2 separate regions of the Homo sapiens genome follow, and region 1 is linked to region 2. Evidence: fine-mapped expression QTL. Tissue or cell type: blood mononuclear cells. Region 2 holds a variant in brackets; the other region holds the start of a gene. All regions are shown on one strand. Distances are from middle to middle. Region 1 holds the start of PIGC (phosphatidylinositol glycan anchor biosynthesis class C). Region 2 overlaps DNM3 (dynamin 3).

Evidence for each region.
Region 1: it holds the start of PIGC, and the variant in region 2 is fine-mapped to the expression of PIGC in blood mononuclear cells (TOPMed, PIP 0.93).

Annotation. Positions count from the first base shown.
Region 1 is chr1:172,442,014-172,447,396 of GRCh38, forward strand. PIGC (phosphatidylinositol glycan anchor biosynthesis class C) reads right to left here and starts at 2,056. Exons shown (of 2, transcript NM_153747.2): 1 at 1,975-2,056; 2 at 1-817. The coding sequence starts at 609. C1orf105 (chromosome 1 open reading frame 105) reads left to right here. Exons shown (of 7, transcript NM_139240.4): 2 at 3,060-3,145. RefSeq lists enhancers at 1,888-2,411, 2,135-2,444.
Region 2 is chr1:172,388,860-172,394,242 of GRCh38, forward strand. The region is part of intron 20 of DNM3 (dynamin 3); the gene reads left to right. It overlaps LOC102724528 (a long non-coding RNA gene), which reads right to left. Exons shown (of 3, transcript XR_001738294.3): 3 at 4,892-5,383. Among named protein-coding and RNA genes, the nearest start is that of C1orf105, 29 kb to the right of the region's middle. The variant G/A (reference allele first, on the strand shown) is at 2,696.

The DNA.
Region 1 (5,383 bases), 53 kb after region 2:
CACCATGATGAAGGCATGCAGGGACCGGGGAAGACGTGATGCCAAGCATACAGAAGCAAAGATGGCCATGTTCAAGGATAGTGTGCTGGATACAATGGCAGCATTGGCACCATAGTCAAAAAAGATGAGATGGCCTAACAGCATGAAGACTGACATGGCATAGATGGTGTCAGTGCTGACAGACTCTGTAAGGGTCTTCAGCACTGGTGAAAACCCATAAGTGAAAGTAATGAAGACTAGGGCACTCTTCAGGTCAGCCCACCGGGTCTGCCCACTCTTCTTCCGCCCTTCACCTCCATCAATGAGATCAAACAAAACATACCCAATCAGTGAAGAAGCCAGACCAGTCCCTAAAAGCCAATGGGGGGCCAGAAGACCCTCATCCATATACCACCAGATAACCACAAAAACACAAACACTGCACAGCTGCTGGATCACCACACTGGACTCAAATACCACAGCCCAATATTGGTATTTCCGAGCATGGATGTTTTTCCGGAGCTCTTCCAGGAATCGCCGGTCCACATAGTTATCAGGAAAGGGCTGTCGCTCATACAAGACCTTCTGCCACTTGACCTCCTTGGTGTTAGTCACAGGTTGAGCATACATTATCCTTTCATTCAAACTCAGGCCAGTTTAATCATCGCCCTCACAGAAGTCCAGGTGGTTCTTGTTCTTTATGAAGTTTTGAAATGAGACCTCCCTGGAAATTCCATGCTGTGTTGATGTTCTACCAACCTTTCCTTGTTTTCAAAGGCAGGGGCTAGGCCTACAATAGATGAATTTGTCTCTGAGGCAGGACAACACAGCCAAGTTCCTAGAAAAAGAGAGACTGTGAACCTACGAAAGTTGTGAAAGGTCAAGAGTAGTACTGAGATAAAGTCAAATCAACTCAGTTTACTAAAAGTCTGAGAAAAATGTATGTGGTAGTCACCTTATGGGACATTAAAACTGCATTTCAGATTTGAAAATTATAATTCCTTGAATAATAATAGACATCTGTTAGCTATCGCTTATTGAGTACCTACTATGTGCTAAGTGCCTTATGTATCTTCTTTCACTTAATCCTCACCACCTTGTAAGTTAGTATTAGTCCTGCTTTGGTAAAAAAGCTGAGATTCAAGATGCTTAAGTAACTTTGCCCTAAGGTAACAGAGCAGAGCCAGGATTCAAACCAAAGTCTTATCCCAAAGCCTGTGTCTCACATTGTATCTCCCTCTAAAGCAGTTCTTAACTCAGTGGTTCACATATCCCTTAGGTATATCACATTGCATGCTTATATCTGGATTTGTGTAAATTTATAGGGATAATATCCATAGTTTTTATTGGTTCTCAAAGGCATGTTATTTGTATTTTTTAAGTTACCAATCCAAAGACAATAGTAAGCTGCACCATACAGAAAGGTATGAGCTCTATAGTTTAACCAAAATCAAAGCCTCAAAGAAACTAGACTCTTCTTCCATTAGCTGAGCTTAGCATCCTTTAAAGAGCTATCAATCTACTCAAAACAAGGAAACTCTTGAGAGGATCGAAGAAGATAATCATTCCTTTTTCACAATGAGAAAACTAAGAGTCAGAAACACCACAGCCATCCGGCAAATTTGAGAAAAAAAAAATTCATATTGCCCGACTTTATTTCTTCCATGATAGACCACAACAAATATTGCTTGGCAAGCCAGACACCGTTACCCCCTCTGCAGCAGGGATCCCAGCCCGGGAATCTTAAGGCCGCCGCCGGGGTTGGAGGGTCTGCGACGCCCAAAAGGGCAGCGCCCGCCCGCAGAGTGGGGCTGGGAGGGGACGGGGTAGGGTAGGGTGACCCCAGGGTGCGCCTTCACTCTTCTGGCACCCCATTTGGCTTTTTGGGTGGGCCTCCCACTTCCGCCGCCGCCCCTCACTCAGCCTTGGGTCTGCGGGAGGCAGCAGAGGAAAAGGAGCCCCGGAAACACTGACCGTTACACGGAACCCACCTACCCGAGAGTTCCTAGGGTTGCGCAGCTGGGGGACGGCGGCACCCAGCCTTTTTCCCGCTTCGGGGCGCCGGGGCTGCGACTGTGGCCAAGCACTTCCGGGTCCGCCGCAATCTCCTTAGCGAGGGCACCCTTCCCCGGCTGGAACCATCGCGACGTGACTGCTGCCCCCTCCTGGCTGCTCGAAGGACCTCCGGTCTCCTCTCCTGGAGACTGGCCCAAACCCGAATGCTCTGAGCCTAGGAAGGCAAATCCCCAGCAATCCCCTATTGAAAGATGGGATGTGCCATCTGAAGGACTGGGTAAGGCAAGAGAGGACAAGGAAAGAGGCTGGGCCAGTAGGTGAGAGATAATGGCCGCTTTTGTTGCGCTCCTTTATTAAGTCAGGCCCTCAGCTGGGACTTCCCGTGCATCCATGCGTTCATTCCACAGATACTGATTGAATGCCTGCATGTAACAAGCCATGCTTGGGGTGCTCATGATACAGCCGTGAATGAAACACACAAAAATTGCTGCTCTCATGAAACTCTCTTTTTTGGTGCATTGACCTTTACACTGATTATATCATCTCCCCCCTCAAAGAGGACAAATCTAAGGCTCAGATAAGTTGTATTTGTCCAAAGACAGGCACCTGGGAAGTAGATGAACAGAGATCAATATCCAGTTGTCTATAGCTTCAAAGCTTGGTTTTTTTCCTCTTTACCTCCTAAAAGAAGTGAGGACAAGATTGCTAATTAAACTGAGTTCATGGAAATATTAAAGGATATATAAACAGAAGGAAGTAATAAAGAAACAAAGGGATGTAGTAAAACACAGGATACAGTGGAAATAAAAGTCAGAAAACATGACCCATTTACTAGCTCAGTGACTCAAGGCAAATCACACTACCTGAGCTTTGATTTCTTCATCAGTAAAATGGAGATGACATTATTTGCACTTGGCTACTTTATAGGATGGTTAAAGAGTTAAATATAAAAATGGTTTGTAAAGTGTTCACTATATGGCTGCTATTAGCTGACTTTGGCCATCGTAATGATAGCAATGTTTAAGTGTGATATATTCTGTAAAATGTTCTCTATTTCCCTCTAGGCTTCTGTTCCAAAATTTGACAAGATTCCTTGGCTTAGTGAGGCCAGCCTTGTAAACAAGCCATTAGTGCTCAGCCTTCCCAGAAGGTAACCTCTCAGCCACCGAGGGCAAAAGTTTTACGAAACATCTCACAGAAGATGATTTCTTCTTAAGGGATGGGGACAATTATCAGAGGGCACATTTGATCCATTGAGAAACTCAAGTCAAGTGCTTTAAAAATAGAAATAATCCGGGTTTCTCAGAAAAAAATGATCACTGAGTATAGGCCTGGCTAGAGGAGATGAGATCTCAAAATTTTTCCCTCTCCACCACTACCACTCAACAGTATAAGATAATTTTTCCCCTAGACACTGTCTCTCAAAACACTTCCATCCTCTTTCTCACCCCACATTTTCTCCACTGCTGTAGTCTGAAATTTTCACATTTTTACCATCAAAAGTCTAGAACAGTAAGTTCCCATCTTTATAGAATAGTAACTCTGTATGTAACTTTGAGGCACCCTCCTACATTCCTGTTAGTCCTACTCCTTCCAAACAAACTACTATATGACACATAAATCTATTTTTCAAAATTGCAGGAATTACATATCTAGGGAGCATTTCAACTGTCTCTTGAAATAATTGGGTTACCGTGTCCCTTCTCCATTTTTGATGAAATGGTTCCTAAGTGTAGTGATAAACCCCACTCTGGGAAGGGGACATGGACAGAAGGGTAGGTGTGAGGTAGTGTTGGGGTGAATGAGAGAAACCAGAAAGAGGGCAGAGAGAAAGAGAAAGGGCAGGCATAGAGGCCATTCCAAAGGCACACGACAGACTAAAAAGGAATGACTCCTTGGCATTCGAAACAGCTCGTTAGAAAAGCCAGACTCCCCAAAAAGAGTTTCTCCTCCTGTTGATAACTACCATGTACCCTCCTGCCCATGGATAAGTGACTTCATAAGCAAATTCCCATCACTGTCTCCACATCCCCACTTTAGTAACATGTACCTTTGCTTTGTCTACTGTACATTAAAAAAAAATCTCATTCTCAGTAAATAGGTAGACGGTTTTAGTATTTTCAGAACAAAATTCACAAGTGCTTTCAAGTGCTCGTTATTCAGTTGTGTTATTTTTACATAATTTTGAATATAACGAAAGCAGATTATCAGAGGTTCAATAAACTCAAAGGCCTATTTAAGAAACAAAAGTACTAAGTGATAGAGTGCTTATTAAGAGTTGTTAACACTGCATGGATCAGCACGAGTAAGGACAGTCTAGCATATTTTAATTGAGGGTGGGACACAAACTCACAGGCCCATGACAGTCAGATGAGGGGCATAATGAGTAAAGCTGGCCAAACAGGACTGCAATGAATGGGAAATCACCTCCCCGCTTCAGCCCACCCCCACGCCAGCAGTGTTACCTGCAGGCATGTGAGTCCAGAGGCCAGATCCACTGGGTCTTCTAACAGTACTAGAAATCTGGATGTTTTATGTGAAATTGCTAGTGTTTGATCTAATAGGGTAATATCCCACCATCCCATACTACCCCCATGCCCATTAGACCTGCCCCAGCAGCGAAGAGCAAAGTATCCTTGTGCATGGCTCTCTTGCCCCCAGCTCCCTTGGTCTCTAATTACACAAGCCTTTGGCAGAGGGTGGAGATCAGGGAGAAGGGTAGGCCTAGAATACAACTGGGCATCGGCAGCACCTGTTCACTTTCATAGCCAGGTCCTGGAGGGTCAGAGCAGACAGTCTGTTGACAGCCAACTGGAAAGGGAGTGGGCAGTTTTTCCTCCAGCCAGCCAAACCTAAGCTAGGCACAAGGAGAAATTACCTTAGGCAGGCAGTGAAGCTCTACTCATCGCTATTCTGGGAGGATTGGGGTAGCAATCTTAATTCTTGTTTAGAAAAATGTAATATACCTACCTCACAACAAAGGTGACCGAACAGCACCTTTGAGGTGCCCTGAGCTCTCAGGAGGACAAGACGGGAATGAAAAGTCTTTTGAAAGGATGGTTTAAGTATCAAAAGATCTTAAGGATTAAAAGCTCCTCATGTGGGCCAAAGCTCCGGGTTCCAAGCTGTTTATTTTTGGCAAAGCCCCTTACTGAGACTTTGGGAGAAAGTTCTCAATGTGCCTTAAGCATTACATACCCTTGAGCAAAGAGTTCTAATGCAGAACAGTCTGAAAAAAGATAAAGGAACATTTAGCCAAATATGCTCAGAGTAATTCCAAGTGTGCGCAATGGAAACACACCTACAGGGTTGGAGGAGGTGAGGCTGGGCTGTAATAAGAAGTGCCTGTACTGACCCACTTCCTTCAAGGACTCTCTCAGGTAGGCCT
Region 2 (5,383 bases):
CATAGAATGACAGACAAAATTTATTTGAAAGAGAAAATTGCAAAGATCTTATCGTACGTGTTTGCAGTTTTCACAATGAACAGAGACTATAGGAAAATTGCCAACCCTGTTATGCCATTTAAAAATCACTTGTGATCATTGAAATTTCTCATTTATCAATTGGCACAGACTAAATAGGACTAAAGAACACTCCGTCCCAATGAATGACATTTTGGCAGCTATTGGGAGAATTTGAGGGCTTTGAAACAAAAGAGCTATGGAGGATTGTAGCAAGCTGTGTGTTCTATAGGTCATGAGAGTTCCATGGACTAAAGTCTTGCCTTCTCCATTATCAAAAGAATTCTTGAAAACCACTGACTTAGAGAATTTTATCCATCTGCCTTCTGAACTGTGATCCTTATACTCAATTTTACCAATTTTCATATAGGCTGAATAAATCTGGCTGATTGATCTGCAATTGTTTTTTTAAAAACTACACATAGAAATTTTAATATAGGCATGATTGTTGTATACAGTCACTAATCATATATAAGATAGATCATTGTACATCTGAATAATACGTGTTGACAATTATAAGTGGATTTTCAGGCTTAATTGTGAAACAATATAGCTAATAAATAATGGACCTAGAAACACACATAGTTGGAGCTGTAGTCTCACCTTCATATACTTACAGTCAAAATATACACAATGAATAGAATCAGAGATTTTTAAGGTATAAAGTACTAAGGTTTTTTTCCCCCTCAAAATCAGAAATATAAAGAGGAAAGAAAATTAGCCCATATATAAAGTTAATTTTTAAAAAATTCAATTCAGAGAATTAAAATATTTATATACTCCATGAAGGAATATCTGACTGTATATGAACCATAAAAACAGATGTGACTTCTACCCATCCCTGAAGCCTGAGCCACCTTGCCAACTGATTATGGCACTTACGTTTTATTTTAATCTTCAAGTTGTTAAGCGTAATGAAGAGAAGAGAAGAAGGGGGATCTTAAGCTAGTACACAGAGGGTGGTACAGCAAGAATAGGCAGGAGATTTGCAGTCAGAAGACCTGGGTTACTGAAGGTCTTGGGCAACTCATTTAACTCTGAGACGGGAGTTCTTTATCTATGAAACAGGGAGAACTCAATAAGGTTGTTCCCCAGATCATATGACATGAGGTATTTGAAAGAGTTTGATACACTGTAAAGACTACAGTTGTTACCACTGTTATCATTTTGGTCCTAAGCAAAGAGGATATATACACACTCTCAATCCAATTTTTTTTCTCTAAATTCAATAGACTTGGCTTATAAATTATTTGGAATGGTGCTAAATTTCTAGTAATAGCAGTACTAGCAATAGCCAACATTTATTGTGCCCTCAATATTACTAGGCATTGCCCTAAGAACTTTGTATATACATTTTTGTTTAAAGCTCACAACAAATAGGTTGTTATCCACATTTTACAGATGAGGCAGTGAGGTTAAACAGCTTGCCCAAGGCTGCTCAGCCAGTCCCTAGTGGAGCTGGACTTTAATCCCATGCAGTCTGCTTCCAAAGCCATTTCCTGACCATGACCCCAGGGTTTTTCAGCCTCATCAGTACTGACGTTTTTGTTGTGGAGGGCTGTCCTGTGTATTGTAAGATGTTTAGCAGCATCCCTCCCCTCTACCCTCTAGATTTCAGTTGCAGTCCCCAGTTGTGACCACTAAAAATATCTGTAGACACTCCCAATGTCCCTTAGGGGAGTAAAATTCCTCTCCACGTGAGAACCACTGCACTGTAGTATTCAAAAGAATTCCCTTCCATGTAAAACCATGAATTTCCGCATTGAGCCTTGCTACAAGCAAGATCCAATTTATTATTTTAGAAAACCTCAAATTGACTAGGAAAGTGTCTGCCATTGTACCAGGAAGGTATTGAGGCCATTGGAAGAGGAAGAGTTGAGAGTGGGAAGGCTGGAGTGCCATGCAGGAGCTACTTTTGTCTGTCTAGCTGTGAGAAAAAACCAGAGCAAACTGGTGGTGCCTGTCCTGGGGAATGAACATGCATGTTCTGCCTGCTTGCTTGACTGCTTTACCTGTGGGTTTCAGATGAGCTAGCTTGCCAGTACCCTTCAGAAAAATCAACTTTTGAATGCTAAGCTGACTTGTTAAGCAGGGTGGAGTTGCCGTTAGTATTTTCCAGCTCGCACGAACAAGGCAGCCGGATGAGAATGAGTAGCCCGAGCTGGATGGCCGGCACATGGGCAGCAGGGCTTAATGAGACTACATTAGGGAATTTATAGGATGACAGTTGCCTTATTTGAAATTTCTAGAATACTCTCAAGTTAGAACCAGACTTTACTTGATCTGGCCATGCAAAGAGTCCCAAATTTAAAACAGAAATGAAAGTACAGGGTAAAAGAGGAAAGTTTGTTGTTTTGTGCTGAGCCTTCAAGTTTCTGTGCTGGTTCAGCGCTTTGGGAGGGAAATCCCGGGGAAGGGGGCTGGGGGAGGGGTGGTCACCTGAGAGAGGGCAAGAAAGACTCTGTCAGGATCCCCATGCCTGTTAAATCCAGCTTTAGATGGAGAGTTCTGACCACATAAAGTCTGTTTTTAATAAAAGCCAGAGCAGGAATCCTACCAAATACAAGCCAGAAATGGGGTTTAAGATTTCAAAAAAAGAAAGGAAGAGAGAACGAGAGAAAGAAAGAAATTGAGAGAA[G/A]CGCTTGTTGAAACTTCACCTTATTCTGTTTGTTTAATATATTCTATTTCCCCTCTGTGCTTTGCCTCCATTTTCTCTATCAAAAACTTAGAAAGTTGAAATGCCATTATCCATCATCTCTGGGAAAACAACCCTTTGTTTTCAGAGAAGGAAGTTTGATTTTTTTTTTCAAGTTTTTTACTTTCTTAAGGGTCCTTTCTCCTCTTGTATCTGAAACCAGAAACCTATAACATGACAAGACAGCACAAAAGGTGTCCCGCCAGCTCCCTGTTGGGCTTTAATATTACAAAGGCAATAACTGAACTTTTAGAGACAAGAGATTCTGCCATTCAGCATGGGCTTGTGCATAGTTTTCTTCTGGATAATTCACGACTTCATTAGCAAGTTATGATCTTGACTTTTAAGAGCATATATACTTTTATGTTAACGCCATTCAAAGGTAATCAAAGCACACTTGCAATTGTACAGAAACCATGAGTGTTCTGCTTTTAAAAAATATATATTATTGTATCTTTCCATTCCAATATAAAAGGAGAGGAAGGAGAGAGGTGGTGGAGTCATTTTTGGCCCAGCTTTTCTCAGCTGCTCAAGCTGTTCTGGTTTATGTGCATGGAGCCTTTCAGTTAGGGAGCTGGAAATATTGCAAACTACATGCCTGTTTTAATTAATTCCACTTGAACTAGAGAAGCATCTCTATCCCAAAGAGATTCACTAGTATGTATGCTTCTGTCATTGGTAACTTGAGTATACACAAATCAGTGATTTGTGGAACATTTTCTATTGCCAGAATATCTGGATTGTCACCTCCCCTCTCACCTCCACTCAACTTCTCTGAAGGGGCTAAATGCTGTTTGAAAATCCAATCCAGTGTGTATTTATTTACTTAACAAGATGATCTTAAACAGACATCACCACCTCTTTAGGGTTCCTATTCTCTTAATTGAAGATCCTGATCTTCATCAGACATTAACTTTAGAGCTGATGTAACTATTTTCAGATATAGCTTCTTAAAATTAGTTAATTGGGAATCACAGTCTTTGACATTAACGGAACAAATTCACTGAATCCGAGTGTGTTTTTCCTGGCAATAATGAACTCTGGCATTATTTCACTCATTTGTCTTCTTCCCTTTCCTTGGACTAAGCTATTTTGCAATAGTCAAAAGGGGATAAGGGTGGGAGGAAGGGTCTCCAACCAAGCAAGAAGAAACTTTTTTTTTTAACCTCATCACTCAATATTCAAGTACTTTTTTTGACCACCCTTGTTCACCAAGTATGATGGTTTCTCTTTAAAAAGACAAAACTGAATCATTCGAAAGGATTTGGGTTTTACTCCAGCTCATCAAAATGACATAAACACAATATGGAAACCAAGAAATGCTCCCTTGAAGGAGTCTCTGGTGAGCCCCTTAGTGAAGCTGATGTCCCACCCTGCAAGGGCAGTCCCAGAGTAGCATCAAGATTATTCCAGAGTGTCTCACTCATGCCCATCCCATGACTTAGGTGGCTTCCTTGACTTATGTGGCACACTTTAAGAGTTTCATTGTAATCCCACATTTTCAGTAATTTATTACAAATCGACCATGCCAAAAGATTTATTAATCCTTCTACATAGGCAATCAATGCATGCATATTCTTTTCTTTACAAAGACAAAAGCCATTTAATCCTCCTTATAATTTAGTTTAATTCTGTTTCAAATGTTTGACCTTGATGGCCTGCAGTGCTCTATCTCTTTTATGTATTTTACATATTGTTATAACTGACAATTAATATAAAGTCCCTTTCACTTAGGGATACGATCTCCTTGTTTCGGTTTTGTAGCCAGTCCCCCAAATTTTGCATGAGGACAAATTCACGATTCTTATGAGTGTGTCTTTGAATCCCTTACGTCAAGGTTTGGTGCCATGAAGGATGAAGCTGCTGAGCCCTGAAGTCGTGGGCTAAGGGTACACGGACAATTAAGCAACTTAAGTGACTAGCCTGTGTCTGATTCCCCTGCAGTCATGTACTGAAAACCTCCTGACTTACTGTCTTTTCAACAGCCCTCTAAAAGTCTGACTTCTTTTAGCAGCTGAATGTCATTTGGACAAATGAGGAACTCATCTTGTGACCTCTGATGTCAGCCAGGAGCTTTCTATTTTTCTCACCATCCTCCCCCTTTAAAAAACAAATACATAAATTTATCATTGGGCATTGTGATTTTTCATGGAACAGTTTTTATTTTTAGCAACTGGCTTTCAAAGCAAGGAAAGATGTTTTTTTAAGCATAATTACTAAGAATAGAAACAACTTTGAGGTGTTCTTTTTGATTCTTAATATTTAAGGTGTCTCATGACATTTGAAGTCTCTAAATGTCATTAATCATTTGTTGCAGGTTTAATATGAGTTGTCATGATGCTTAATATACTTTAATGAAAATAGAATTTTGGCCACATGCTGTTCATTAAAGAAAATATCCAATTTAATATAAGTCCCTCAATTAAAAATCCCATCAAAAGCCTTGTTCCAATTTCACCATGATTCTGGCTATAACACAATTATTTCATTGGAGTGAATCAATGGTTAATGTCAAAGTTTTTAATTCTTCAAGTCTTGGTTTCAATCTGGTTTAAGTGAAAGTAAAATTAGTTTGGTGGTTTCCTTCTTGAGTCTTGCAAACTTGAGTCTACCTTACACAAACATCTCCAT